3 separate regions of the Homo sapiens genome follow, and regions 1 and 3 are each linked to region 2. Evidence: fine-mapped expression QTL. A gene starts in region 2. Each other region holds a variant in brackets. All regions are shown on one strand. Distances are from middle to middle.

Region 1 (10,513 bases), 48 kb before region 2:
AAATATACATATCTGTTTTCCCCTTTTCCATGAAATCCCACAAAAAAAAGGTTGTTTGTTTGTTTAGAATTAAACCCACTAGAATAAAGAAATTAGAGAGAAAAAAATTATAGAAGCTGAATGTAAATTTAAAAAACACAGCCGAATCTTAAGCTGACAGTGGAGAAAACTGAGAATCATAGATTAGCAGCACCAGGGACCTCTATTCATGGAAGGGGAAGCAAAGGGGCTGGTTGAAATTCAGTTTAAGAGGCTCTCAGATCCCTAGTTCCCCACTTCACACAGCAAAATTGCCTGGATCCTAACCTGGCAAAATAGTGGAGGTTTCTTCTGTAGAGACAGTAAAATAAAGAGTCTCTGGATTAAAGAACTCCAGAGTAGGATACTATTGTTTAAAAAGAAGGAGGGGATAAAAATCAGGTAACAAAAATAGCTCTTAGAAAAAAATTGTAAATGCAAGAACAAAGGTAAAACTCAGTAGAAGGGTTAGAAAATAAAATTTAGAAAATCTCCCAGAATGTAGAGTAAAAAGACCAAGGATGGAAAATAAGAGATAAAAGAAAATATGAAGACTGTTACAGGAAGTATAAAATCCAAGTAACAGAAATTTCTGAATGCAAGAACAGAGAAAATGTATTATCCATTACATTAGTTATCCAGTGCTGCATAGCAAATTGGCCCAATTACTCAGCAGCTTATAATAACAATTTTTTTTATCTTACCCAATTTCTGAGGGTCAGGAATCTGGGAGCAGCCTAATAGGATAGTTCTGGCTCAGGGTCTCCCGTGAAGTTGCAGTCACGTTGTTGGCAAGGGCTGCAGTTTCATCTGAAGGCTTGAATGGAGCTACAGAATCCACTTTCAAAGTGACTCACTCACAGGGCTTCAAGAAGCCTCAGTTACCAGCTGGATATTGGCAGGAGTCCTCAGTTTCTTGCCACACGGGCCTCCCATAAGGCTGGTCAACATGGTCGCTGGCATTTCCCAAAGCAAGTGATCCAAGACTGCACTATCTTTCATACCCCAATCTCAGAAGTGACATACTATCATTTCTGCTGTAGGCTATTGGTCACAGAGATCAACCCTGGTCCAGTACAAGGGTAAACTGCACAAGGGTGTGACTACCAGAGACAGGATCACTGGAAGCCATTTGGAGGCTGACTATCACATTATATATATATTTCTCCCCCAGAATATAAGGGCATACATTTTCAGAATTGAAAAACCCTCATAAGCACTGATTCTCCCCAGATGATAAAAAGAAAGAAAGACCTCCTAACAGCTTAACATAGTGGGCCCACACCAAGGCCCATCATCATGAAACTTCAAAACACTGAGAATGCTATAAGCTTCCAGAGATGTTAAGAAGTCATCTAGAAGAATCAATAGTCAGAATAATTCTGACTTCTCAAGGGCAACATTGGAAGCTAAAAGCAATAAAACAATGTCTTCAAAATCTTGAAGAAAAATGTCCAGACTAGAATTAAACCCACCAAAATAAAGGGCATTGCAGAAGAAACAACCAAATTTTAGTGGATGGAAAGTAGATTAACACAGACATGCAAACATCTGCGTCTTAAGACTGACAGTGGAGAATGCCAACAATAATGAATGAACAGCACGAGGAAATGAAATGAAAATGAAGGAACGGGTGGGGTGGTTAAAATATACTTTAAGTGCCAAGTACTTAGAAGAACAGAATGAAAGTCTTTTCAACCCTGCTTGGGAAGTGGCTGGAAATGTGCTTTAACAAAATGGGCGAGTAAAGTAGAGAAACAGGAAGACAAACAGGAAGAAACAGGAAGACAAAAAATGAAAGATTCAAACCCAAAGAAGGGATAAGGGAGCTCTAGCATGGTGATGCAGGAACTCCAGAGTGACAGCTGTGTGCCACGCCAGGAGGAACCAGTCCAGTGCAGAGCAAATTGGGGTCCTCAAGAAGGAAGATTTTTCAAGGTAACAAAATTGCTGGAATTCCTGGTGCATCAGAATGCCTTAGGGGGAGAATTTGGGCACTTGGTGAAGAGTTTAAGGTCGAATTAGTAATAAGTACACAGAAAACTAAGCAAACAACAAAAAGAAAAAAAAAGACAGTTATTAACTCCCGGGGGGAAAAGCTGTCAAGGAAAGATAAAGCAATCATAGTGTACAACACGGCTCAGCTGCAACTAGCATTTACATAGTCATAATAACATAAACGTTGAATACTGACCTAACGAAAATCCTGAAATAACTACATTGGGAGAGCGAAGGATGACCCCACAGTGGGAATTTAGTAGATAACGCCTGGAACTGAAATATCTAGCTTTAATAATAAGCAGCCTATTTAGAAATAGATACTAGATACCAAAATAATCAGCTAAAAGAGATAAAATAATCAGCCAAAAGAGATAAAATAATCTCTGGGAGGGGGAAATAAAGCAGAGGGCAGGGGGCTACTCTGTTTTGTGGCCAACTCTGTGGAACCTTTTGACTTTCTGGATAGCCTTCACATTACTATGATTTTAGAAAGATATTGATGTCCTGCAACGAGAAGTAGGAGGCAGTAGCTAACCATTCCTCCATTCAGCAAGCACTCAATGGGCACCTACAATGTACTCGTGTTGGGAGATTTGGAGGAAAAACAAAAAGCCCCAGTCCCTGTCCTCTCTGGCTCACAATCCAGTGGCTATCTCCACACACCCAGAGAGGCAGCAATTCAAACTCTTCTCTAGTGAGAAGGTTAACAAGATGAAAACAGATGCCTGGAGATCTGCTTGTCTTGAACTAGTCAAGCCACTTGACTAGTGGCTTCTGTTGGCCTTCCCTGGATGGCGTACCCTTGGAAGTTCACCATGGGCTTATCCTTGAGGCACAATGGGACCTGCCTGAGCAGGTGGGGCAGGAGTTGGGGTAGGCAATCCCTGTGATAACCATGCCCACCCGGCACGGGCATGGTGTGGGCTACATTTTCTGTTTGTTTGGTTTTTGGGATGGGGTCTGTGTCTCCCAAGCTGGAGTGCAGTGGTGCGATCATGGCTCACTGCAGCCTCAACCTCCCGGGCTCAAGCAATCCTCCCACCCCAGGCCCTGAGTGGCTAGGACTACAGGCACACACCACCACGCCTGGATAATTTTCGTAGATACAGCATTTCATCATGTTGCCCAGCCTAGTCTCAAACTGCTGGGCTCAAGTGATCCTCCCACCTCAGCCTCTCAAAGTGCTGGGGTTACAGGTGTGAGCCACCACACCTGGCCAGGTTATATTTTCTAAAGCACTCAAGTGACCTACAGAGTTTGTTTGAAGCACAATAGTTATTATATTGTTTTGCTTGCATGACTTCATTTAATCTTGACAATAAACCTTGCTATTATTAGTCCCACTTTCTAGATGAGGAAACTGGAGCCCCGAGAGGTTATGTGATTTGCCTAAGTTCACACAGCTTGTAAGCAGCAGAGTTCAATCCAGATTCAAACCTGTCTCAAGCCCCTGCCTCTGAGTCTCACAACTGGATTTCTTTTCTCCATTTAGATTGTTGAATTGAGAGTTACAAGAACTGAGTTCTAGCTTGGCGTCTGTTTCCAGAAGCGAAAAATGGAAGGGGTTGGCTAAGATGACAACTAAGGGTCCTTTATGCTTTGGCCATCTACATTAGGAAGACAGAAGCCAAAGGGGAAAGGAAATGTGTGAACGTGGTGCAGAGGTGAACACTTCCCCTCCTCAAGCCTCATTTTCATCATCTGTAAAATGGAAATCACGAAGACACACATCACAGGGCAGTTTAGTATATTAAATACAATAATGTATAAAAAGTACTTAGCCCTCACCCAAACACATCATAAGTGCTCAATAAATTTGAGCCCTTATTCCTTCCTAATATGCCCGCAGGGCTCCACCAAGCTTGAATTCCCATAAGCTTTCACTTCTGGGAAGGTCAAAGAACCATGTTTGAGAGAAGAGGACTGATCAAAGTAGGAGAAAGGGAATCAGGTAAAATTACTGTCTAACAGGAATGTGTGCTGTTGCCCTTTATTGGTTTTACATATGAGTTAGCTTATTAATACTTTCAGGAGCATGTTAGTGTGAAATTGGAAAGCATCACTGCAGGTCAGCCATGAGCCACTGCACTGGTGACAGAAAGGGGAAGAAGAGCAAGCAGGGCAGGCACAGTGGGGAGAAGAAAGGAGAGAGGCAGAAAGGAAAGGAAGGCGAGTCCTCGATGGGAAAGGGCAAAAAGATAACCAAACAGGGAGCAAACTGGTTTTAAAGTTCAAGGCTTGTGGCCAGGCGTGGCGGCTCACGCCTGTAATCCGAGCACTTTGGGAGACTGAGGTGGGTGGATCATGAGGTCAGGAATTCAAGACCAGCCTGTCCAACATGGTGAAACCCCGTCTCTACTAAAAATACAAAAATTAGCCGGGCATGGTGGCAGGCACCTGTAATCCCAGCTACTCAGGAGGCTGAGGCAGGAGAATCGCTTGAACCTGTGAGACGCGGCGGTTGCAGTGAGCCAAGATTGTGCCACTGCACTCCAGCCTGGGCGACAGAGCAAGACTCTGTCTAAAAAAAAAGAAAAAAGAAAAAAAGTTCAAGGCTTGTGATGTATGTTAAACACACGCTACTATTTGACTTTAAACATGACTCATATCCACTTGTCTTTTTGCTCAAGCCATTTCCTCTGTATGGAATTCCCATTCTTGGTCATAGACACTGCTCAAGGCCTGCCTAGCTTTCTCTGAATCCCCCAAAAGAGCCTAGAACACTACCTAACATGCAGTAAAATTCAATAAATGGTTTTTGAATTGAATGCAATGACAAATGTGTTCCTCAAGCTTATGATTATTTACTATTTCAAGTAGATGAAGAAACACTCCAAACAACTGGCTGCAGGTGACCAAAAGATTATCATAGCAAAGTTCCCTGTCTTGTTTGGGATAAGAGTGAAGGTCTCCAGGGACCCGTTCTGTGGTGGAAACACTTTCTTCCAATAATAATGAAAACAAGAATAACAAGGAAAAATAAATATGTATTGCCTTTAGTCCCGGCTACTTGGGAGGCTGAGGCAGGAGGATCGCCTGAGGCCAGGAGTTTGAGGCTACAGTGAGCCATGATGGTGCCTGTGAATAGCCACTGCACTCCAGCCTGGGCAACACAGTGAGACCTCATCTCTAACAATGTGTGTATGTATATGTGTGTGTATATATACATGTGCATATGTGTTATATTACACACACACATATGTACGTGTGTGTGT[GTA/A]TATCTATATACACAGAAAGGGAGAGAGAAAAGACTATGTCCCAAACACTATTTCTAAGTACTTTATCAATAATAAATTACTTAACCCTCAAATCAAATCTGTGAAAAAACAGCAGTTGTCACCCCCATTTTACAGTGGAAACTGGGTAGGGTGACCAACCATCCCAGCTTGCCCCAGTCTGACAGGGCTCCTGGGATACAAGACTTTCAGTACTAAAACCAGAAAGTCCCAGGCACACTGGGATGGGAATACCCTAACACTGAGGCACACAGAGACTAAGAAAATGTCCCAAGGTTAATGAGTGGCTAGGCCAGGATTATGAACTCAGGGCCTTCATCACCTCCACTGGGCAGGTACAGACAGAGGCAAAAATGAACCCATAGAACGATGGCAGTGTTAGGGTATTTCCATCCCAGTGTGCCTGGGACTTTCTGGTTTTAGTCCTGAAAGTCTCATATCCCAGGAGCTGTCCACTATGCTTTCCAGCACCCAGCCCGGCATAAAGAGGTCCTCAAATGATTGTCCTAACCATATTCCAGCTGTAGTACTGACTATAGCCCAGCTGTGGTACTGACTATAGCTCTAAGACCACAGGAAAGTCATTTAACATCTCTGGGCTGCAGCTGTTTTCATCTTCAAATGAAGGGCTCAAACTAAATCAGGAACACTAAATGGACTCCCTTGCTCACAGCAGAAAAAATGGATTGGGCAACTGTTTCTTGCTCTACTGGAACTTGGGCCTCAGAGTCCTTCTCACCCCTGCACCTGGGGCAGTCCCCACCCATTTGTAGGAGGTGATGCTGAGCATGGTCTCTAAAGCCAGCAGCTTTACCTTCGTGGTCTGCTGTTAGCTGAAGTAGCTTTCCTGAAATGGTTCTGATCGCTTAGGATCTAGTAGTCAGACTAGCATCCAAAGAGAGAAGTATACAAATGGCCACAGCATCTGTAATGGTAGGGACAGTCTCCACAGACTGGCAGTAACCATGTCCAACCCTGTGTTATGTACTCCTCACAGTACAGCAGGGTGAATGAGGGCAGGGACTCTGGAGAGACTGCTTGGGCTCAGAATCCCGGCTTGCCATTTACTGGCTGTGTGACCTTGAGCAAGTTACTTAACCTCTCTGTTTCTCGATTTCCTCAATTACAAAACAAGGACTATAATTGTAGCTACCTCATAGGGTTGTTACGAGGATTCAGTGAGTTAACAGAATACTTAGCACAGTAGGTGCTATGTTTTAAATATGTTTTTAAATTGTATTCCTACCAGAAGGAAATTGGGGCTGTGTTAATATTATTAGAATCCTCAAAAACATATCTGAAGTAGATATGATTTAGCAAATGAGGAAACTGAGGTTCAAAGAAATTAAGTTGCCCAAGGTCACACCTAGCCAGCTTAACAGTAAAGCCAGATTCAAATCCTGATTCCAAAGCTTCTGTTCTTAGCCATAATGCCACCCTGCATCTCAGTAAACACTCAAACACTTATGAAAATAATTGGTGGTGAAATAAAGGGGGTTCCTGGTTACCTGCAGGGGCTTGCTAACCTGTACTGTACTCCTGCGTTGAGTATCTGCTTGCTCCGTACCGGTGTTGCTGACTCCCAGGACCTGGGGCATTGTTTTCCTGACTGGCTCTGGGAATGCCACCTACTGTACCCCCTGCCTGTCCACACCACTGGCAGAGAGAGGTGATGCCAACAGATCTGAGCATCAGCCTACGGAAAAACACAACACACCGCTAAGTCTCCGACTTCTGAAAAATATGAATCTTTAAGATTCGGGTTATTGGTCTTCTCGTATCAGTAAAGTGAATATTTTATAGATCTGTATCTTTCAGGGAATCGAGTAAACACAGATTAGAGAAAATGAGCAAAGGGATTAAGCATCTCGGTACCTATGCTGTCTCTTATCTACCTCTCTCCTCTAAGGATCCTCCTAAATCTACTTTTTTGTCTTAATAATCAGTTATTCACAAAAACATCTATTCTGGTAAACACCAAAGTTCCTAAAGCAAATGTATTCCTCACCATATTATGTTCAAAGGGAGTGAAATGATGTTTCTAGTTCATTCCATCTGGTGCTTTTTAAAAGCAGGAAAAGTGCTTAGCCTTCCCAAGGATGGGGCTTAGAGTTCCTCAAATGATAGTGCAAGAGGCCAGAAATTGGTTCTACTCCTGCCTCTGCCCAAAGACTGCACACTCCTGGTTTGGTTGATAAGCAGGTCGCCAATTAGAACTGAGCAGTTTCGGGGCAGGTGACATGGAGCTAAGGTATTTATTCTTCCATTACAGTGCCTCTACAGGAGGGCATGCCATGGAAAGGTCCAGTGACATCAGAGCATCAAGATGCTGAAGGCCCAACTCCATACCGACATTTTTAGAAACCAATTCAATGGCTCCAACTCCATAGATGATAAGGCAGGGAGGGAGGAAGTGATCTGAAAAAATACCGATACATGTTTTTGCCCAAAGGCTCTCTTGTAGCTTATTGGATAAAGCAGTTCTCATCACGACCAATGAGCTGTTTCCATTCCTTTTTAGGATGGTTATACTCATGCAGGATCAACAGAAAGCAAGCTCTTGGCTGGTCACCATGGCTCTCAACTATATTGCCAAGAGAGAAACCCAGAGTTATCAGGCAGGGGAAAGGGTCCTGCAAATAATAGTGTTTGTACTTCTAGCATTTTGCTCTGGGAGCATGTGTGTATAGGAGGTGAAAGCAGCTTATGTATTTTAACAAACAAACAAAACCTCCCAGGGAAATCCTGAAGAAAGGCAGAAATGTTGAACGTAATTTTAACAGATTAACATGGGGAAGGACTGCAAAGTGTAGTGGTTAGGGGAAACCTGGCTTGGAAACTTTAAATCCAGACTGTTATGTACTGTGTGACCTTGGAGAATCACCTCCTCTAATTCAAGGAGTCTGTTTCCTTCTTTAAAAACTGGTGAGATGCTTGCTTCATGGGTGACCAAAATAATAATTGAATACTGGTGACAGCAGCAGTGTACTCTCCTTAATTTATTATGAGGCTTAAATGAGGTAACACAAGGGAAGGGGCCAGCACCCAGAACATGCACTATTACTCACCAGTTTGCCTTGGCACATCATACCCTAATATCATTTGCTAACATTTACAGAGTATTTACGTATGAGGCACAGTGCTGAGCTCTGGGTTTCTAGAATTAAGTCAAGGCTTAGACTGAGCCAGCCTTAAATTTGGGAGTTAGTACTCTTTCAGAGATTGTGAAGATTAGTGAGAAAGTGCCTCCCATGAGGGGTTTAGTACAGTGCCTGGCATATATACAAAGTACTCAGGAAAAGGCAGACTATGACATCAAGGGCAAGCCCCACTTGCCTTGGGAACAATGGGGAGGGTGAGCAGGTTGACCTGAATCTGTTTTTCCCCTCCCCAATTAGTCATATCCTTTGCTGCTAGCTCTTTGCATTCCTGGTCAATCCCTAGCCTATACCAGGTACCTGGCTCTTCTAGAACAACCATGGAAGGAAGCAGCTCAAGAGCTTGAAGGTTAAGGTACTTAAAATAGAGAAAACTAGTTGGGAGGAGTAGCTGAAAGTCTAAGGGGCTTGTGGGTTCTGGGAATGTTATTTCTTGATCTGGATGCTATAATAGTTACATGGATGAATTCACTTTGAGAGATTTCAACAACTTCTACAATTAAAACTTGTGCACATTTCTGTCTAATTCAAACATTTTAAAAACAGAAACCACCCCTCTCCATCATCTAAAGCATAAAGCAGTCTTTCCCAAAGGGGTGCCATAACTGGGTCACAGGTCGGTCACCTGTGGCAGCACGCAGGCTTGTTGGCTGACCCCGGGAGCAGTACAAATACCATCACTGTTTGGTTAAGATTGGTAGGCACTATCTCAAAAGCCAGGAACAATATCCTCCTTAATCATGCACCAAATGAACAATATCCTCAATCACAAGTTTATTTCAAGATTGTTTTTCCACCCAAGATCCATTCTATTCACTTGATTTTTAATGACTTTTATCTGCAACAAGAAGAGTGCACAAACATTTAAGGGTCAACACCCCAGATTGCTCTTTACAAAACTGAGTATTAGCCTGACATCATTCTGTATCTTAGTCTTCACTAAGAATTAAATGTCTAGAATATCCCTTCCTCTGCCCTAACTTCCTTTCCCCATAAGCAATGGATCAAAAACCTAAAATAAATTTCTATCACTTATCAAGTCAATGGATACAATACAGACTTCATGCTGGTTTTCTCTTTGAAAGTTTATTGTTTTCTTTAAAAAAAAAAAAAAACCTATACCTTTTATATTTTACATTCACCTCTCAGAATATTTAATGGTACCCGTTAACGATGTTATAAAAAAAGACCATCACCTGCTTGAAATGGCTGCAAATTTACCATGTTCTGGCATTAAAGTGATTTCAACTCTTTGGACAAATTGGTGTAACAGTAAGCACCGAGATTTCAAATTCCCAGATGAGAAAAAAAAAATTAATCAGGAGGAAATTTATTTAGTAAAAATTCAAAGCTAAAGAAATGTGAGAAGGAAGCCAAACCCAAAAAACTGTAAAAAATACAATCTTCTCTCCAGAATTAGGTTAAAAAATACAGTCAACCCCATTCTAAACCCCATATTTCTTAGAAAAGTCACCCAGTCCTGAACACAGGGTCTTATACACAAATACATGTAGCTTGATTTGCAGATCAGCCTCTGGGATCGACCTTACACTGGCCCCAATTAGAAGTTCAAAAACAAAAATTAAGTTAGGTAGTCAGACATCTATAAATACTAGTATCCGCATGAATGAAAACACCCTGGCTTTGGTATGGCTACAGAAATCCATCTGGAAATTATTCAAAAGGACGTGGTTCAGGGAAAAGGGGGTAGGCAGGGCATGGGGGGAGGGGAACACACAAAACCCCCAAGCAGAGGTAAAATGAATATTGGAACACACCCGCAGCAAACACTGTACATAGACTTGAGGCAGATGCCTCTAACACAACACATATACAGGTTCTTGATCAAAATGGTCTGGACCAACCTTTTTCAAAGTAATCACCTGCAGGAAAGAGTTTAAACTTGGAAATTCATCTGGTGCCCTGGGGTCTAGTGAGAAACAATGACCTTTTGGAATAATGGCCACCCAGGCTAGAAGCTAGCCTCCTTCTCGTCTAGAAACTTCAAAGTCTGTCTTCCCCTTTAGTAAGGCTTCTGCCCACCACAGAAGTACCCCCATCTACTAACAGGAAGGCTGCTTCTGTTCCTGGTCACCACTG
Region 2 (10,267 bases):
ATAGTATTTGCATATAACCTACGCACATCTTCCAGTATACTTTTCTTTTTAATGAGACACAGTCTCACTCTGTCGCCCAGGCTGGAGTGCAGTGGCACAATCTCGGCTCACTGCAACCTCCACCTCCTGGGTTCAAGCGATTCTCCTGCCTCAGCTTCCCAAATAGCTGGGATTACAGGGGTGCACCACCACACCCGGCTACTTTTTGTATTTTTAGTAGAGATGAGGTTTCGCCACGTTGGCCAGGCTGGTCTCGAACTCCTGGCCTCAAGTGAACCACCTGCTTTCGCATTCCAAAGTGCTGGGATTACAGGCATGAGCCACTGCACCAGGCCAACAGTACACTTTAAATCATCTCTAGATTACTTAGAATATCCAGGCCAGGCATGGCAGCTCATGTCTGTAATCCCAGCACTTTGGAAGGCCAAAGCAGGAGAATCACCTGAGGACAGGAGTTCCAGACCAGCCTGGCCAACGTGGTGAAACCCCATCTCTACTAAAAACACAAAAATTAGGGCCAGGTGCAGTGGCTCACGCCTGTAATCCCAGCACTTTGGGAGGCAAAGGCAGGTGGATCACCTGAGGTCGGGAGTTCGAGACCAGCCTGACCAGCATGGAGAAACCACGTCTCTACTAAAAATACAAAATTAGCTGGGGGTGGCGGCACATGCCTGTAATCCCAGCTACTCAGGAGGCTGAGGCAGGAGAATTGCTTGAACTCGGGAGGCAGAGGTTGTGGTGAGCCGAGATCGCGCCATTGCACTCCACCCTGGGCAACAAGAGTGAAACTCCATCTCAAAAAAAAATAAAATAAACAAAACAACAAATAAAACCACAAAAATTAGCCAGGCATGGTGGCAGGTGCCAGTAATCCCAACTACTCCGGAGACTGAGGCAGGAGAACTGCTTGAACCCAGGAGATGGAAGTTGCAGTGAGCTGAGATCGTGACACTGCACACCAGCCTGGGTGAGTGAGTGAGACCCCATCTTAAAAAAAAAAAAAAAAAGATTACTTACAATATCCAATAAAATGTAAATACTATGTAAGTAGTTGTTACGCTACACTGTTTAGGAATAACAAAAAAAAAGTCTGCACATGTTCAGTACAGATCCAATTTTTTTCCTGAATATTTTTGAGCTGCGCTTGGTTGAATTCACAGATGCAGAACCCACAGATACGCAGAGCCAACTGTATACAATAAAAAAGGGGAATCTGACACAAATAAATATTTTCCAAGTTACAACTAAAGGGAACAAGGAGGAGGCCAGATGATCAAACGAAAACTGTTTCAGAACATCTTAAACATTGTTCTTAGAACAAGCTAATGGCTGGGGTGTGTACAAAATTTTAATAGCCCCTATACTGGAAGGAAAAAAAAACTCAATTTTGGCTCCACAGCGCCCCCTCGTGGGTATGAGATGAAGTGCAAGTGCTTCACATTCAAAATCTCTGGTTAAGCCGTGTCTTCTGATGGAATTAAATCGAATGCAGTCCCTCAACTTTGTATGTCATGCATATGCAGCTGTCTTTTGTAAGGCTGTTGCAGATCCAATTCCCCACAAACCCTTCTCCCCTCCTTCAGTCAAGAGGCCTTCCCTGAGTTCCTGTCATGGTCAGCCACATTACTTGGCACTCGGGAAACTCAGATGAATAAAACGTAGGCCCCATTCCAAACAGCTGGTCTAGCTTTTGCTCCACGGCCCGATTTTGTCCCAGAATATTCCGCTCATATATCGGTCTCTCTTTGTTTCCTATTTCTCCTCCCTTGATCTCTCACATTTCATCACCTTCCTCCTCCTCCATCCCTCCAAAATAGCGTTCCTCACACTTGCCAAATTATAAAGCCCAGTTTGAAAAGCAAGGCTCTGAGACTCTGTGATGACAGTGCAAAGAGCGTGGGACTGAAAACACAACACCTGGGGACCATTAAGCAAATCTCTCCCTCTCTTACCTGTTTCCGGGAGGGGGGCGGGTGGGGAGAACATTTACGGAGTATTTACAGTACCAGGCCAAGTACTTTATGCGCATGTCATTTAATCCCTATACCGACCCTAGGAAGTGCCTTCTAGGGCAGGTGTGGGAATTAAACAGCTCCATTACAGTTGGGTAAATCGAGGCTGGAAAACTTAAGTTTACAAAGCTGAGTTAAGTGACAAAGCCAAATTTAAACCTGTATCTGGCTGGTTCTAGGTCCCTTTCCTTTAACCAACCTGAGTTCTCAATAGTGTACTACCTAAAGTATAGATGACTTATGCATTTCGGGGGTGGGGAGGGGCAACTTTGGACTCTGATGCTCTCACACACAAAAAAGGGGCGAACTACACTCGATGTATTCAGTAAATGAGTTTCTAATTCCTACTAGTGAGTGAGGTTCAATCAGAAACGGCTGGGAGGGAGGACGGGGTCTTAAAGGGACCCCCAGCGTGACAACATCTAAGTCCCCTCTCCCCATCACGGTCGAGTGTAACGCACCCAGGGCTTCCCCGCTACTCCAGCACGGATGGGGGTAACTTCCCCGAGCCCCGCAACTCCCGGCGGCCCCTCCACGCAGCCCCAGGCCCCGGAGGCCGCCCCGCCCCTCTCCCGAACAGCCCCACCCCCTCCCCCAGCGGTCCCACCTCCGCTCCGGGCGGCCGGGCGAGCGGCAGGACTCACCTTCGTCCGACTCGCGGCCCCGACAGCTGCGCTCGTCGTCCTCGGCGCTCTCCAGCTCTTCATCCTCCTCGGGGTAGTACTCGGGGGCCGGCGGCGCTCCAGCCTGGGCCGGGGCCGGGGCCAGCAGCCCCGCGGCACTCATGTCGCCTCTGACCGCAGCTGAGCGTGGCCCACGGACACCGCGGCCACCCGCGCTCGGTACTCGCCGTCTGCCTAGCAGTGTCCGCGGCAGCCCCCAACTCGAGGACCGGCAGCCACGGCGACCCCTTCCCCGTCTCCGCCGAGCTCCGCCCCCCGCGCCCGCGCTCGGCAACGGGGGCCTCGCGCCGCGAGCGACTTCCGGGTCGAGAGCTGCCCGACAACGGCCTGATTCCGCCATCCTTGGGGGAGTGGAGATGCCGCTGGACGCCCCCGTCGCCACAACCTCAGCCCTTTCATCGCCGTCTTAAAATCCTCAACGTATAGTGGGGGAGGGGCGGAGCCAGGTTCGCTAGAGTCAGGCAAATCTACGGGCAGGCCCAGCAGCGGTCAGGACCCCGAGGCTCGCAGGCGACTTCCGGAGACAGCCGCCAGGCGGCGCCTGGAGCTAGAACTAAAGCGGTGATCGTTAGCGACCTAGGGGCGGAGGGTTTGAAGGGCCCTTGGCAGGTGGAGGTGGTCTCTAATTTAAGCAGGGAACGACGCGACCTGCCCCCTTATTAGGTCGGAAAACCTAGACGTCCAGAGTGTGCGTGATCATGCAGCCTGGCTCCTCCTGTGACTAGTTAGAGCTTTATTAAGAGCTAAAAGACAAGGATGCTGATATTCCATCCTGGGGACAGCAAAATAGTATTTTCCCAGCCCTTAGGAATCCTTTCTGTTTGTGTAAGGTTTATTCGGTAAGATGTTCCCCCGGTTTTACAAATGAGAAACGAGCTGTCGTTTGCCTAAAAAAAAATAGTAACGTCCAGTCTGATTTTTTAGACTCCGAGACCCAGGCCCTCCGCGGTACAGCTGCCTTGAATATTAATTTTTTAAAAGGTGCTTTTGCTTAATCCAACAGCTTGCTCTGAGCTCTCAACTGAAGAAGGGGAGAATTTGCCTACCAGAAGTTATTTGGCTAAGGCCCACGTGGAAGCTTAAAAAACAGGAGAGCTGAGTATCTGCAAGAATTAATTTGTGCGATTCCCTCTGAGTAGAAAAGGAACACGGTGTTATAAGTTTTGCTGAACGAATAGATTTAAGGTGTCCCTTTAGCTAAGAGCAATGTGGTCTAGTTGTGTGTAGCGAGAAAAAAGGGTAAGGTTTTTAATGGTTTGTCCAAAGTAGCCCCACTTTTATGTTCCACCCGAGTCTCCGTAGGAAACGCAACCAGTAGTGAAAATGAACAGATGTGAAAACCAGGGTGGAACCGAATATTCCCATTCTCAGACCTTTTGTGATTAAATTTATCTCTGAATTGTTCCCTATGGACTCTTCTGAAAATGAAACGTTATTCTCATCCCACTTATTTTGACATTTATTTACTACCTTGTTTTAATTAAAATCTTGGCTCTATTTGTAAGTGATTTTTTCTCCCAACAAAACTAAAGAATTTCCAGAATGGAATGCTAAGATGTCTTTCCAGGAGTTCTGAGATCTTCTGAAGCCCCTTCTAAATAAGAATCATTCTCAGATCGCACCGTAGGTCTGCCATCTATATTTAAACTAGGATTCCAGAACTGTCTCTTGTCCAAAAGATGAAGTCATTTTCTTTCTTTGTGCTGTTGGAGAACATCTAAATTACTTGCAATCAACTATATTGAGTAACTTGCGTTCCTGTCAGTAGCAGTAATCATAGTGCAGAAAAAGCAAAGATTTTAGAAATCAAGAGTTCATTGATACAATTAATTTTTAAGTTTATTTCGTTGCTAAATGGTTTCCTTTCAAGACGCTGAGATTTTTATCCTGCTTATGTTTTACTGCTGTCTTCTTGACTGCAAACAGCATCTGTTAATGGTCATGCATTTCTTTTTTATATGTAATGAATAGACACAACTGAGCACTTGGGTTATGAAAACTTACCCCATTTTTTTCTGTCCAGATTGCCAGCTGCAGAACTAAAAAATGCTCTTTAGTGAAGGTGGACCTACTCAAAAAAATTCTCTTATGGCTTTAGTCTTACCTAACCTTTAGATTTATTTAATATGATTTTGGACAGTCGCTATACTCCTGTAAAAATCAAGTTCCCTCAAAACCAAGTTTTACCACCTTGAAATCTTTTTATATATCCCTTCTCAAAACGGTACTCAGCCACACCGCTCAGGAACTCGACTTGACTTGAAACGAAGCCCTGCCAGCCCCATTTCCACAACTTCTTTGCTTCCAGGCCTTCTCTGCCTACCCTAACACCCAAACTGAAACTTTAAAGGGGGACATCACAATTGGAATGGAGTATGATTCTTTTTTTTCTTTTTCTTTTTTTCTTTTTTTGAGACGGAGTTTTGCTCTTTCACCCAGGCTGGAGTGAAGTGATGCGATCTCGACTCACTGCAACCTCCGCCTCCGGGTTCAAGTGATTCTCCTGCCTCAGCCTTTCTAGTAGCTGGGATTACAGGTGGGTGCCACCATGCCCGGCTAATTTTTGTATTTTTCGTACAGACGGGATTTCACCATGTTGGCCAGGCAGGTCTGGAACCCTTGACCTCAGGTGATGAATGGCGTATGATTCTTAAAACACTAGAAGAAACATGTATACTGTTTAGAACACAAACACATTTTGTCAGCTGGAGTTAAAAAGTTAACAATCGAGGGTTCTCTGAGAACTAAGGCCTGTATACATCTGACAAAACTTAGGATCAAAATGTGTTCCTGAGACAATTTCTTCATAAAATGCTAAATTCTAAAGTCCATAAACTTACTTTTGGCGTTAAGAGTAAGGAAAGCAGTTTTCTGTTTCCGGTGTTGATTTGATCAGCATATCCAGTTTCACAAAAATAACACAAATGGGTCTTAGTAGCATGATGCACTTTCACCCCTGGCAGGCACTATCCTTTAGCGTGGATCAAGAGGAGTCTCTGATTATCACATGTTAAACCTGGGTCAAAGCTCGTTATCCTTTGGCCACACGTTCACATAGAATCATTAAAACCTGTGGCCCTGGAAAAAGGTTATATTGAATAGCTTTGCTGAAACCTTGTTAAGCTAATAATAGGGTTCCCCTACCACAGTCTTCCTACTGTCATAAAAACCTACAAACTGAAAATTTCTAAAGCTTTGTCCTTGCACCTATCAAAATGTGCCCCGCATTGAACGCTTAGTTGGGCAAAGTATGCACCTAGTACTGTATATAGATTTTTTTTCCCCCAACGGTATCAAACTGACGGCTGCTGAACTCAATTCAAGGAGAGGCAACTCCCTTGCAAGAGATTTTAAAAAGAAATGGTTTAAATCCAGGAAATTTTTACAAATCCTGGGCAAATTAATGCTATATTAGTTCATGGCAGAATTACTAAGAAAGCTGTGCAAGGTCTAGCGAGAGACTGGGGTCCTCCCCAAAGGCTCTAACATGGTGGTCCCTGGGAATCTCCCAAGAAAAGTAAAGGCGTGGGGAGAAGCGCCATGAACTTTGACCGGAGAGCAGCACAAACAAGACTGACCGCACCCCAGGCGGGCCCGTAGGTTACTAAAGTTGCAAGGTCTTCCGCGTCTGAGGAGACCCCGCCCTGCCCTGTCCCGCCCATCGACAACTCCGCCAATCCTCGGGTTCCATCGACCGCTCGGCTTCCCAGGCTCCATCAATCAAATACCTATATACGGCCCCGGCCCTGTGCCCCGCGATCAGGGAAGGTCAGTAGAGAGCCTATTGGAGCCGAGCTTGGGGCGTGGTCCGGGGCAGGGGGCGGGCGGACTGAGACGGTGGGGCGGGGCGTGCTCGGCGCAGTCCGGTGCGATTGGCCACCCCTGGCAGGAGCCGCACCTCGGACAGCAGCAGCGGCGGCGGCCGCGGGAGGGTCCTTGTGGCGCCGGGCGGCGGGGTCCTGCGTGGAGAGTGGGACGCAACGCCGAGACCGCGAGCAGAGGCTGCGCACAGCCGGATCCGGCACTCAGCGACCGGACCCAAGGATCCGCCGGGGAACAAGCCACAGGAGAGCGACTCAGGAACAAGTGTGGGAGAGGAAGCGGCGGCGGCGGCGCCGGGCCCGGGGGTGGTGACAGCAGGTCTGAGGTGAGAGCACCGGGGCGCGGGGCATGACAGTGGGAGCCGAGGCGGCGGGACCCCAGGCAGAGTGAGGGGAGTTGCGGGAGCGGGCTCGACAGTGCAGACTGTGGAGAGGAGACCCCGGGAGGGACCGGGACAGCGGGTGAGGAGAGGGGACTCCGAGAGGGACCGAGGCAGTGGCTCTGAGTGGAGAGGACTCCGAGAGGGTCCAAGACTGAAAGTCTGAGGGGAGGGGTCTCCAAGAGGGGCCGGGACAGTGCGCGTGAGAGGAAGGGACCCGGAGAGGGGCTGGGGTAGTGGGGTGAGGGGTGGGTGCCTCATGAGGCACTAGGATAGGGGGATGAGGGGAGGGGGTCCCCTGAAGGACCAGGTCCCAGAAAAGGTCAGGGACAGCGGGGAGAGGGGAAGGGTCCCCGAGAGGGGCCGGCACTGAGAGTCTGAGAGATGGGGACCCCGAGAGGGGCTGGGACAGCACCCGGGGAGAGGAGACCCCGAGGTGAGGGGAGGGGACCCAGAGAGAATCCAGGACAGAGTAAAGAGAGGGGACCGGTCAGGGGATGTGAAGACAGGGGATCCCCAGAGGGCTTAGAACAGAGTGTGAGAAGACCCCAGGAAGGGCCAAGACAGTGGGAGAAGAGGAGGGGTCCCGGAAGGGGGCTGGGCTGAGACAGCGGGGCTGAGAGCAGGACACCTAGAGAGAGGCCGGGACAGCGGGTGGGAGCAGGGTGACCCCGAGAGGGGCCAGGACAGCGGGGTGAGAGGAGGGGACCCCCAGAGGGCTCGGGACAGCGCATGCGAGCGTGGGACTCCGAGAGGGGCTTTGAGCGTCGGGTGCAGGCGCGGACCCCGAGGGAGGAGCGGTGCCCCATGGGTGCGGGTCGGGCCCCCAGTCACATAGCGGGGGCCCGGCGTGAGCAGCGAGGGAGCGGGCGGGGGGTCGCGCCCGCTGAGTTGCGGGAGCCCCCCCAAGAACGGCTGCGGCGGGGAGCCTGGGTCGCAGTCGCGGCGTCGGGCAAATAGGAACCGGCTGCAGCGCAGACGAGTGGAGCGGGGAGGTGCTCCCAGGGTCTGGCATCAGCGACCTCCCTGAGGGTGGAGTGTGAGCCCCCGGGACTCCGGGGGACTCCGGAGCCGGATTATGTCATGAAACATCTCTGAAGTGAAACGCATGGGCTGGAGGAGCTGGAGGGGCTGGTGGGGCTGGCTGCAGGACAAAGATCTTGGAATGATCAAGAGACCTGCGCGGCCTGACCTCTTCTCACTGGCCCGCTGGCTTCGCATTCGTTCCTTAGAGTCTGATGTGGATGTCTTGAAAGCGAGGGGCTTCCTGATCTTAATGAAAAGGTCAGGTGAAAAGTTGGAAGGGGCTTCTTCAAACCTCCCCCACTTCCCCCTCCACAAGAAGTTGAAAGGGACAGGGATCCTTTTGGAGACCCGTGTTTTAGATTAATAAGAATATTTCTTTGATAGACCCTTGCGTTTTCCTGGACTACTGGTTTTTCATTTTAGCTCAAGGAGCTAAGAAACTTTTTTAGATTTGGCAGCATATCAGTATCAATGTTTACAATGCAGATTTAAAGGAACTATACTAGGTTTGGAATCTGGACTGTTTAACTTTGATCTGTTGGAGATAGTTGGAAGGTCAAACTAAATTTTCAAAAGAGGTTTTGGAGTCGCAAAACTAAGAGCTCTTTCCAATTAGATTTCTTATCCTAAAAGCTGCCAGGATTGAGCTTTAGGCGTAATTCCAGGACAAGCTAAGGAGAGAGATAAACCTATTTAAACCAGACACTGTGTGTCCTGGTGGGAGGCAAGTGTATCTATTAAAAGGTTGAAACAAATAGTGGGAAGCAATAGGGGGTGGGAGTTGGGGGACAGCCTCCTACTCTGAGGGATGTGAAAATTAAACTAATGATCAGGCTAGTTGTTCACAGTACTTAGGATATGTTAATACTGCCCTACCTACTTTTCAAACTCGAATGCACATGCTTTGTTATGGTTGTACCCAGCAGTTTTGTATTTGAATTTTTAAAACCTCCTTTTCAATGTTTATAGGTTGTATCTCCTCACCTCTTGGACTGGTTTCTTTTTTTATAGAAGCAGACATCGAAAATGATGGTTTTAGGAAAATAGTGAGGAATGTAATTACTATGTAATGTCGGTTATTTAGATATCGCCTTTGTTTCAGGTTTAGAATGTGTTTTATTAGAAGTCTTTTGCCAGTGTTCAATATAGGCAGTTTCAACTAAGAGGAATAAAGGAATGTTGTATTATTTCCTAAATATATAATGCAGATGCCTTACATATAACTGCTATGTAAATCCAAGACAAAAATTACTGAAGTTATTTTTATCAGGGTAATAATAAGTAGAGGAGAAGCACTGTTTAGGGATTTTATTTGACATTACCTGATACAGAGCAGTTCTTCTATGGCTTCAGAGAGTGTGCAGCTTGATGTGGTTATGAAAATTCCACTAACATGGCCAGGCGCGGTGGCTCACACCTGTAATCCTAGCACTTTGGGAGGCCGAGGCAGGCGGATCACAAGGTCAGGAGATGGAGACCATCCTGGCCAACATGATGAAACCCCGTCTCTACTAGAATACAAAAAATTAGATGGCCGTGGTGGTGTGTGCCTGTAGGGCCAGCTATTCAGGAGGCTGAGGCAGAGGAATCGCTTGAACTCAGGAGTCAGAGGTTGCAGTGAGCCAAGATCGCGCCACTGCACTCCAGCCTGGCGACAGAGCAGGACTCCGTCTCAAAAAGAAAAAAAATTCCGCTAACTAGAAGTCCTCTCCTGAGACATAGAAATTATACAGATGAGAGAAACAACAACAGCAAATACAGATTTAAAATATGAGACACTATATTTAAGATGTATTGAGTGTATTTTTTTTTACATTAAATTTATTTTTCCAGAATGCTAGATCGAATTCAAGTAAAAATAAGGTCGGTTAACTCAAAAGGGTATTTAGAACAGGCATATATTCATTTTGCAATGCATATAATGTATGAAATGGCCTGTGGAAGGATTGAGAATCTCAATATCAATAGTTCTACAAAGTAATAGAAATATTTGAGCAGATATGCTTTCACCATATTTGTTAGCTCATTTCTGACTGGTACAAATGGTTGTTTCTTAAGACAAAACATTAAATTTATTTCCTTGTAAGAAAAGAAAGTGCTCTGATACTCCCCTAAGTGATTACTAAAGCAGTCATTTCAACCACATTATATTATGGTATTGATCCAGAGACGTTAAAGAGAGATTCTTTGCAGTAGAATTTGTAGTGATAGTAAAGGCCTATAATAACTTCATTCCCTGGGGGGTTAGGAGAGTAGGTAGGGATTCTGTGAAAAATTTTTTCATTTGTTTCAAAAAACTAAAACTATACTACGAGAAGCTATAAATATATGAAATCATTGTACCT
Region 3 (10,513 bases), 170 kb after region 2:
GGGTGATGGGAGTAAAACCCTGTCTCAAAAAAAAAAAAAGAAGAAGAAGAAGAAGAAGAGCCGGGTGCAATGGCTCACACCTATAATCCCAGCACTTTAGGAGGCCAAAGCAGGCAGATCACCTGAGGCCAGAAGTTCAAGACCAGCCTGGCCAACACGTAGAAACCCCATTTCTACTAAAAATATAAGTATTAGCCAGGCATGGTGGTTCACACCTGTAGTCCCAGCTAATCGAGTGGCTGAGGCAGGAGAATCGCTTGATCAACTAGGAGGTTGCAGTGAGCCGAGATTGTGCCCCTGCACTCCAGCCTGGGCAACAGCAAGACTCTGTCTCAAAAAATAATAAGAGAAGGTAGAACATGAAAAAGAAATCTCCCTCCCATTTCAGGCCCCCTCACTAGCAACCACTGCACCTATTTTGTACCTCTCCTTCTAGTGATATTTTATGCATATAAAAGTAAATGTTGTTTTTATTTTTGCACAAATGACAGCAAACCATAAAAACCGTTCCACCCTGATTTTTCTTTTTGCTTTACAGTGTGCTTAGGATATTGTTTTGTATTACTACATGCAAAGCTACCTCATTCTTTTTAATGGCTCCATAATATTCTTAGATGGACCATAATTTGTTTAACCAACGCATTTAGGATGTTTCCAATCTTTTGCTATTACAAACTGTGCCGTAATGAATATCTTTGTGTATATGGCATTTTGTCCCTGTATAAGAATATCTAAAGAATAAATTCTGGCCGGGCACGGTGGCTCATGCCTGTAATCCCAGCACTTTGTGGGGCCAAGGTGGGCAGATCACAAGGTCAGGAGTTCAAGACCAGCCTGGCCAAAATAGTGAAACCCCATCTCTCCTAAAAATACAAAAATTAGCTGGGCATGGTGGCATGCGTCGATAATCCCAGCTACTCGGGAAGCTGAGGCAGGAGAATCACTTGAACCCGGAAGGCGAAGTTTGCAGTGAGCCGAGATCGTGCCACTGCACTCCAGCCTGGGCAACAGAGCAAGACTCCATCTCAAAAAAATAAATAAATAAAAATAAAATAAAGAAATTCCTAGAAGTGGGATTGCTCATCAATGTGGATTTTAAATTTAGATAGATATTGCCCATTTGTCCTTCAAAGCAGTTGCACCAATTTATAGTCCCACCGTGAAAGTATGAAGACTGATACTTTTTGAACTTTGTCAGATCAGTGAAAACTTTTCTCACTATAGTTTTAATTGCTATTTCACATTATGGGAGATGTTGAACATCTCTCTCGTAAGTTGAAAAGCCATTTGTATTTCCTTTTTAATTTATAGTAGATCTTGGATTTTTTTTTTCCTATTTCTCTTTTGACATTCTTTATGCTGATGTTTTGTGGAAAGGAGGTGGGGAGAGTTATGCAAAAATTTGTTACAAGGAGTGAGGTAAAAATCTACCTTTTTTCCCCCAGCTAAGCTATCTACTTACTCCCAGATATTTTTCAATAATACATCTTTTCCATGCATTTTTGCCCTGACATTAAAACATCACTTTCACACTTAATCCATTTAAATAAACAACTGAGGTAAAATTATTGAAATGGTTAAAGGACAGATGTAAATGTTAGAAACATTTGCAATGTAAAAATAATGTAATTAGAAAAATCTAAGGGCAGGAAAAACGTATGCATACTAATTTCCTTATCTTTCCAAGTAGATGGACAATAACATTTCTTAAAATATATAGGACAAAAGAACTAAAGTAACTTCAATCTCGTAAAGCCTTTAATAATTTTTTTTTTAACTTTAGAGGATCTGTTAGGAACAGATAACTCTTTTGGTGAAGAAATTACAACTAAAGTTAAGCAATTGTTTTATTTTTTAATTTGTGCATGTGTGTGTGTGTGTGTGTGTGTGTGTGTGTGAGACAGAGTCTCGCGCCGTTGCCCAGGCTGGAGTGCAGTGGCGCGATCTCGTCTCACTGCAACCTTCGCCTCCTGAGATTCTCCCTAGCAATTCTCCTGCCCCAGCCTCCTGAGCAGCTGGGATTACAGGCACACGCCACCATGTCTGGCTAGTTTTTCTATTTTTAGTGGACACAGGGTTTCACCCTGTTGGCCAGGCTGGTCTCAAACTCCTGACCTCAAGTAATCCACCCGCCTCAGCCTCCCAAAGTGCTGGGATTACAGGCATGAGCCACTGCATACAGCCTATGCAATCGTTTTAATTCAGTCTCTTCTAATCCTGTTAAATTCAAATATACCTTAATTAAATCGATTATACATAAAATTAGCTTGTATAATCAGATTCCCATGTAAAATGATTTCTAGTTATTCATTGTTCTGAGAGAAAGAAAGGGACATGTCTAAAATGATATTCTGTAACTTAATATTTATGTATTTATTTCGAGATGGTAGAATTTCGGGTGATTTTCTTTCTTTTTTTTTTTTTTTTCCTGAGACGGAGTTTCGCTCTTGTTGCCCATGCTGGAGTGCAATGGCACGATCTCGGCTCATGGCAACCTCTGCCTCCCTGGTTCAAGCGATTCTCCTGCCTCGCCCTCCCTAGTAGCTGGGATTACAGGCATGTGCCACCACGCCCGGCTAATTTTCTATTTTTAGTAGAGACAGGGTTTCTCCATGTTGGTCAGGCTGGTCTCGAACTCCTGACCTCAGATGATCCACCCTCCTCGGCCTCCCAAGGTGCTGGGATTACAGGCATGACCCACCGTGCCTGGCCGATTTTCTTTTTTTATACATTTTTCTGTGTTATTTGAGTGTTGAAAGTAAACATATTTTTGAGAACAATAAAATTGTCCTTTTAAAAGAGTCCGAGGGCATTCCAGTTGTAGGGGTTTGGAGAACAGTGGGCTTTTAAAAACAATGAGGAGGCCGGGTGCAGTGGCTCACGCCTGTAATCCCAGCACTTTTGGAGGCTGAGGTGGGCAGATCACGAGGTCAGGAGATTGAGACCATCTTGGCCAACATGGTGAAACCCCATCTCTATTAAAATACAAAAAATTAGCTGGAAATGGTGGTGCATGCCTGTAATCCCAGCTACTTGGGAGGCTGAAACAGGGGAATTGCTTGAACCCGGGAGGTGGAGGTTGCGGTGAGCTGAGATGGCGCCACTGCACTCCAGCCTGGCGACACAGCAAGACTCTGTCCCAAAAAATAAAAATAAAAAAAAACAATGAGGAGATGGGATTGCAGGCAGAGAGAACATAGAGATGTGAAGGCAAAGGCCTAGAGGTGTGAAAGGTATGCACGGGTTTAGAATTACCTAGAATGTACCTAGAATTGTGTAGGAAGGAGGAGTAGCAATGACTAGATTTAAACCTAGAAATACAAGCAGGAACCTGGCTGTAAAAGGCTACACTTTATCTAAGAGACAGTGAGATATTAAGATGTAGAGTGTATCTGTTTGTAAAAGGTTTAAACAGGTAAGAGTTTATCTCATGTAATAGGAAGTCCAGGACATTGGAAAAGGAAGTGGCGTAAGCAGTCCAAAGCTCTAAGCAGCTCAACAATGTCGTCATCGACCCAAGCTCTTTCTCTCTTTCTACTTCACCATCCTTAGCATGTAGCTTTTATTGTCTTTGTCATAAAATGGCTGCTACATTGCCATGACTCAAGTTTTCATTCCAGGCAGGAAGAAGGAGAGAGAACAAAGGGTAAAACACCTTGTCCTCATGTGTCTTGCCTTTTTATTCTAGAAAATAAAACCTTCCTTGAGAACTTCTGCCTACCTCTCACTGGCCAGAACTTAGTCACTTAGTGATCTGTAACCACAAAGAAGGCTTGGGTTCAGTTCCTTTACTTCCTAGTGCTTCAAGTAAGGCAAAAAAAAAAAAAAGAGAGAGAGAGAGATTGGGTCTGAAAGCTGTGGCTCATGCCTGTAATCCCAGCACTTTGGGAGGCTGAGGTGGGTGGATCACCTAAGGTCAGGAGTTTGAGACCAGCCTGGCCAACATAGTGAAACCCCATCTCTACTAAAAATACAAAAAGTAGTTGGGCGTAATGGTGCACGCCTGTAATCCCAGCTACTGGGGAGGCTGAGGCACAAGAATCACTTGAACCTGGGAGGCAGAGTTTGCAGCGAGCTGAGATTGCACCACTGCACTCTAGCCTGGGTGATAGAGTAAGACTTTGTCTCAAAAAAAAAGAAGTTGGAATGGGGGAATGACATGTAGTATCTGTTGCAATGAATGATCATACCTGTATTTTAGAAAGATAATTATGGTAGTAGGACACCAGAAAATAACCACCACCACCCACACCCCTGGCAGAAAAAAATTTTTAAAGCCTGAGTTGCAGCCGTAGCTCTTCTACTAATTAGCTATGGAAATCACCTAACTTCTCAGGGCCCAAATTTTCTCACTTTGAAAAAGAAAAATTTTCTTTCTTTTTTTTTTTTTGAGACAGAGTCTTTCTATGTCACCCAGGCTGGAGTGCAGTGGCCTGATCTCGGCTCATTGCAAGATCTGTCTCCCAGACTCAATTGATTCTCGTGCCTCAGCCTCCCGAGTACCTGGGACTATAGGCGGGCACTACCACGCCTGGCTAATTTTGGTATTTTTTATTTTTACTTCTTATTTATTATTTTTATTTTTTTTAAACAGAGTCTCACTCTATCACCTAGGCTGGAGTGCAGTGGCATGATCTCGGCTCACTTCAGCCTCCTTCTCCCAAGTTCAAGCAATTCTCCTGCCTCAGCCTCCCGAGTAGCTGGGACTACAGGCACGTGCCAACATGCCCTGCTAATTTTTGTATTTTTAGTAGAGACGGAGTTTCATCATGTTGGCCAAGCTGGTCTTTGATACTCCTGACCTCATGTGATCCCCCTGCCTCGGCCTCCCCAAGTGCTGGGATTACAGTTGTGAGCCACCATGCCCGGTCCCTAATTTTGGTGTTTTTAGTAGAGATGGGGGTTTGCCATGTTGGCCAGGCAGCTCTTGAACTCTTAGTCTCAGGTGATCTGCCCGCCTTGGCCTCCCAAAGTTCCGGGATTACAGGAATGAGCCACCATGCCCAGCCTTGAAACAGAAAGTTTTCTAAGAGGCATTCCCGTTCTAAAATTCTATGATGTTAAGTCATAGCTTTAAGTTTACTAAAAACCGATTAGCTCTTTATAATTGTAAGCACTAGAGGAGGAAAATGATAATA[C/T]TTTCTTCCTTTCTTTCTCATCCTTGAAATGTGCAGGCTACACTTGCTTCTGGGAATGATGTTTTTTATTCAAAAAGGACTCTACCTAGGAAGAGGTATTTTATAAAAGCAACAGCAAAAACCACAATTCCTCTAAGAGAGTCAGAATGCAGAACCACAAGACATATAGATTGTTTTCTCACAAGGGCCCTATTATTTTTTATCTGTTTAAATTATAAAGAAATTAAATTCATTTCATCAGCTAAGGCCCACTACATTATATCTCATTTTCCCAATGTCTTCAAATTACAATTTTACATAAGTAAATTTTCCACATAACTGAACTTTTGCCTTTAAAAAATAATGTCTTTTTTTTTTTTTTTTCCATTCTGTCACCCAGGCTAGAGTGCTGTGGTGCAATCTCGGCTCACTGCAACCTCTGCCTCCCAGATTCAAGCCATTCTCCTGCCTCAGCCTCCTGGCTTGCTGGGATTACAGGCATGCATCACAATGCCCAGCTAATTTTTTGTGTTTTTAGTAGAGACGGGGTTTCACCATGTTGGCCAGGCTAGTCTCAAACTCCTGACCTCAAGTGATCAGCCTGCCTCGGCCTTCCAAAGTGCTGGGATTACAGATGTGAGCCACCACGCCCAGCCTAATGTCACTTCTTGAGGGCTCAGAAACAGTGTTTCGTGAACTCTTGAGGCATAAAAGGGGCTATATAAGGGGCATTTGCCCTTTTGCAAAATAGCCCACAAACCTGTTTTATTATTATTTGTTTGGTTGATAGGTCTGTTAGTCATGAAATTTCTCTCTGTTTCTCTACTCTCAAGCTGTCAGAGAACTTACAAAAGCTACTTCTTTTTACAACAGGTGGTAACCCTACCTTTCCCAGTCCTCAATCCTTTACTCCTCACTCTTTTTTTTTTTTTTTTGAGATGGAGTTTCACTCTTTTTGCCCAGGCTGGAGTGCAATGGTGTGATCTCAGCTTACCGTAACTTCTGCCTCCCAGGTTCAAGCAATTCTGCTGCCTCAGCATCCCGAGTAGCTGGGATTACAGATGCACGTCACCATGCCCAGTTAATTTTGTATTTTTAGTAGAGAAAGGGTTTCACCATGTTGGCCAGGCTGGTCTTGAACTCCTGATCTCCAGTAATCCACCCGCCTCAGCCTCCCAAAGTGTTGGATTATAGGCGTGAGCCACCGCGCCAGGCTTACTTCTCCATTCTTATTCTCTGTCTAACCTGCTATGGGCTGAGAAACTAGGAAACCAGATTATGTAACAATCATTAATAATATTGAAAGTGAGGGATGTTTATATCAAGATTAATTTATGGACTTTAGGGCAGTTGTTTTCACTCCTCAGAGACCCTTTTTTTTAATTGGGGAAATGAAGTTGCCAGAATTTTGACCTCTGGATAAATTGAACAACTGGCATATTTTCAAGCATACACTATACGGCCACAGAAATAGAGAACAAAATATTCACAAGTCTGTTTTTCAAGGGATAGTGTGTATGGGGGTGAGGATTGAGGCAAGTTATAATAAGAATAGAACAAGGTGCGGTGCGGTGGCTCACGCCTGTAATCCCAACACTTTGGGAGGCTGAGGCGGGTGGATCACTTGAGCTCAGGAGTTTAAGACCAGCCAAGGCAACATGGTGAAACCTCGTCTCTACTAAAAATACAAAAATTAGCCAGGCATGGTGGTGCATGCCTGTAATTCCAGCTACTCGGGAGGCTGAGTCAGGAGAATTACCTGAACCCAGGAGGTGGAGGTTGCAGTGAGCCAAGATCGCACCACTGCACTCCAGCTTGGGTGAGAGAGCGAGACTCCATCTCAAAAAAAAAAAAAAAAAAAAAAAAGAATAGACTATACTATGCATTGCTTCTGCTTATTATGTAGTTTCAGATTTAAAAGGTACAAGCCTACCTCCTACTTCTTAAAGTTCTAGTGATTTTTTTATTACTTATATGATAAAGTAAACCTCAAGAATTCTTATATGAAAAGATACTCAACATTCACTAATTATTGGAAATGGAAATGAAAACCACAATGAGGTATCACCTCACACCTGTTAGAATGGCTATTATCAAAAAAGATAAGCGATAATAAGTGGCAAGGGTATAGAGAAAAGGGAATCCTTATATACTGTTGGTGGGAATGTAGATTGGGGTTGCCATTATGGAAAACAGTATGGAGGTTCCTCCAAAACCCAAAAAACAAAATGTTAATTTGTTCCAATAATCCCCCTGCTGGTTATATACCTGAAGAAAATGAAGTCAGCACCTCATAAAAATACCTGTGCCCCCATGTTCATCACAGCATTTTTCTCTATAGCCAAAATAAGGAAACATCCTATGTGTTCATCAGTGGATGAAAGGATAAAAGAAATTATGGTATATGTGATATAGATATTTAAGACTCAATAATATATATGACTGAATATTTTATTATATATATTTATTATATATTTGTTTATTTATAATATTTATTTTATATATAGTCTTAAGAAAGTGGGCCTGCCATTTGCAGCAATACATGTGAACCCAGAAGACATTATGCTAAGTGAGATAAACCAGACACACAAAAAAATAGCATATGATGTCACTTACATGTGGAAAGTAAACAAAGAATAAAACACAAAATGAAAGGTGGTTGAAAGGGATGGGGAATGGAAAGATGAAAGTCAAATGGTACAAAGTTTTAGTTATGTGGGATAAATAAGTGTAGAGATCCAGTGTACAGCATGAGGACTATAGTTGATAATATTGTATTATATCTGGGAAATTTGCTAAGACTAAAGATTTTCGGTACTTTGCCACCAAGAAGTAACTATATGAGATAATAGATATGTTAATTTGCTTAACTGTAGAAATCATTTCACTATATATATGTGTATCAAAACATGTTGCCATATACTTTAAATATGTACAATTTTTAAAAAGAATTCTCACATCCGCAAAATGGGGCTTAAGGAAGAAGAAAAAAGCATAGCTATCTCTTTATGAGATTTACAAAATATGGAAGGACACATGACATGAAAATCATATTTTGTTATTTCTGTAATATCCATAGAACTATTTTATGATTCTCTATTTCCTTTTATATCTGTACCTTGCACCTAAGGACATTTCTTCATTATCAGTTTATTTTTTCCTCCTCCCTCAATCAGCATGACTTTGTTCGACGAGACCGGCCACTACGTGTCCTCATTGACCTCATACAGAGGACAAAAGATGCAGTTCGTGAGCTAGATAACCTACAGTACCGAAAAATGAAAAAAATACTTTTCCAAGAGACACGGAATGGACCCTTGAATGAGTCACAGGAGGATGAGGAAGTAGGTTCAATTTATTTTAGCAGGCACTTATAGAATGCCCACTATGTGAAAAAGTTCTAGACTGGGCACTATGAAAAACTTTTGAAGATAAAAATTAATTGATGCTGTCCGCCTTAAGAAACATGAAGGGTTGTACAAGAGACATTCATAAAATAACACTTATATAAGGCAAAATATGAAAAGTGCTACAGAGGTGTAACCCCATTGCAGGGGTCCATCATGGGGAGAAAATAAGTCTGCTGGTGGGATTAGTGAAGGTTTCCTGGAGGACATGATGTGGGTAGTTTCTGACAAATGGGCATAGGGTGTTCTAGACTCAGAAAGGTGTTGTGCTTTAGGAAGATTATCCTAGCAACAGAGTGTAACATGGATTTGAATGGGCAACATCCTGGCTAATAGTCCATGCAAGAGGTAATAAGGTCAGTGTCGATGCAAATGGGGAAAAGGGAGCACTTTAGAGAAACATCGTAGAGGTAGATTTCATAATCCATGGCTTCTCATTGACAGTGACAGATAAGGAGGAGTTTAAGGTGACTCTGAGCATTGGAGCCTGGGTGGCTAGGAGTATGTCAATACCAAGAACAGAGAAAAAGAACCAGGGAGAAAGAGTAGATTTAGGATGATTTCAGTTTCGTGCCTTTTGAGTTTAAGGTCCTGGCATTATAAACTCTTGCCAGTATACAGATAGAAGTTTTCAGTTAGAGAATCCTTGATGACCTTAGTAAAAGCAGTTTTACAGGACTAGGTAGAATGAATAGTAGATTACTGGAGTTGTATAATTCATGGGAGTTGATAAGAGGGAGACAGGAAAAAATAATTATGTTAAGATTCAGAAATTGGGTTAAGAAGGAAAAGTAAGAGTGGGCAGCATGTAGAGAGATCCATAAATATAAGGCAGGCTTCTTCATCTTTAAATGCAGTAGAGATGGAGCCAGGGCAGAGTCAGAGGCACCGAAGATAGAAGAAAGGGATATAGTTAAAGAGGCAGGATTTCAGAACGTAGACATAACAAGAACAGGAGTATTTTAGCTTTTTAACAGAAAATAAAATAAACATAAAAGTATTTTATCAATAATTTTAAAAATGAAGCTCGGAAAGTTGCATTGAACTATAAAATTTCTTGATTGCATATATAGAAATGATCCCCTTTAATTGGGAAAATAAGTCTGTTAAAAATAATGTATTATCTTCCATTTTATATTACCCAGTAATTTTTTATATTGCCATGGCTAAGTAACAGTTTATTAAAGTTATATGTGTACCATATGGTTTTTTGAGAACAAGGTTTATTTGTAGCTAAATGGATTTAATTTTATTATTCAATCTTATATCAAAAGATATCCCACTGTGATGGATAAATTATATGTTCTGATTATTTTACCACTTTTCAAATAGTAGTCTTTGGGCCAGTAATGATGAATACCAGTATTATTTAACAGATATATATAATAAGATTACAGAGATAAGCATGATAGAATCGCTTGAGGGAGGCAGACTTTAATTACCTGTCCAGGAAAGTAGAATTAATATTTCTGCTTAGATATGAAGTTACTCAATAATGACTTGCAGAGGGAGCATATTGCTTGTCAAATATCTGAAAACTCTTTCCACTCTACTTTTTCAAGTGACCACTGCTGTATTTGAAGATATCCTAGAGCTCACCTGTTTAGTGGCCAGCAGTCTTCCTCTAGCTCCTTGATGTTCCAGAAGGTCCCTTACAAACCTGGCTTGATTTTGCTTACTGAATAGCAACACGATAATATGATAGTGTGTATGACAGGGGAAAGCCCTGGGATGGCAGCATTTGGAGCCTTATGACCCACGTCCAGAATGGCCCCTGGGGAAGGCATAGGAAGCAAATATGAGATGTATGAAAATGGTGGAGGAGTAGTGGAGCCAGTACATAAAAAGTTTGTCTTTGCAGATTGGCAGAAAAGCAACTTGACACTGCAAAATTGAGTGTGCTTGACACTTTTGTCAATGGATTGACTCTTTATCTTCAGTCTTTTTTTCTAACCTCAGTGCCCCATTTTTACAGGACAGTGAACATGG

What was found. PIP is the estimated chance that this variant, and not a neighbour inherited with it, causes the effect. A credible set is the group of variants that fine-mapping cannot tell apart.
Region 1: its variant is the best candidate, but not a certain one, in a credible set for the expression of SUDS3 in whole blood (TOPMed, PIP 0.67).
Region 3: its variant is the best candidate, but not a certain one, in a credible set for the expression of SUDS3 in whole blood (INTERVAL, PIP 0.50).

What each region holds. Positions count from the first base shown.
Region 1 is chr12:118,416,693-118,427,205 of GRCh38, reverse strand. It overlaps SUDS3 (SIN3A corepressor complex component SDS3), which reads right to left. Exons shown (of 12, transcript NM_022491.3): 12 at 9,173-10,513. Among named protein-coding and RNA genes, the nearest start is that of SUDS3, 45 kb to the right of the region's middle. The variant GTA/A (reference allele first, on the strand shown) is at 5,235.
Region 2 is chr12:118,369,223-118,379,489 of GRCh38, reverse strand. SUDS3 (SIN3A corepressor complex component SDS3) reads right to left here and starts at 2,935. Exons shown (of 12, transcript NM_022491.3): 1 at 2,657-2,935. The coding sequence starts at 2,798. LOC124903031 (a long non-coding RNA gene) reads left to right here and starts at 3,363. Exons shown (of 2, transcript XR_007063480.1): 1 at 3,363-3,534; 2 at 3,699-4,192. It overlaps TAOK3 (TAO kinase 3), which reads left to right and starts at 6,583. Exons shown (of 21, transcript NM_016281.4): 1 at 6,583-6,842. RefSeq lists silencers at 2,539-2,688, 2,719-2,938, 6,460-6,709, 7,494-7,553, 7,654-7,743 and enhancers at 2,380-2,880, 6,090-6,139.
Region 3 is chr12:118,199,244-118,209,756 of GRCh38, reverse strand. It overlaps TAOK3 (TAO kinase 3), which reads left to right. Exons shown (of 21, transcript NM_016281.4): 12 at 8,294-8,461; 13 at 10,500-10,513. Among named protein-coding and RNA genes, the nearest start is that of PEBP1, 68 kb to the right of the region's middle. The variant C/T (reference allele first, on the strand shown) is at 5,139.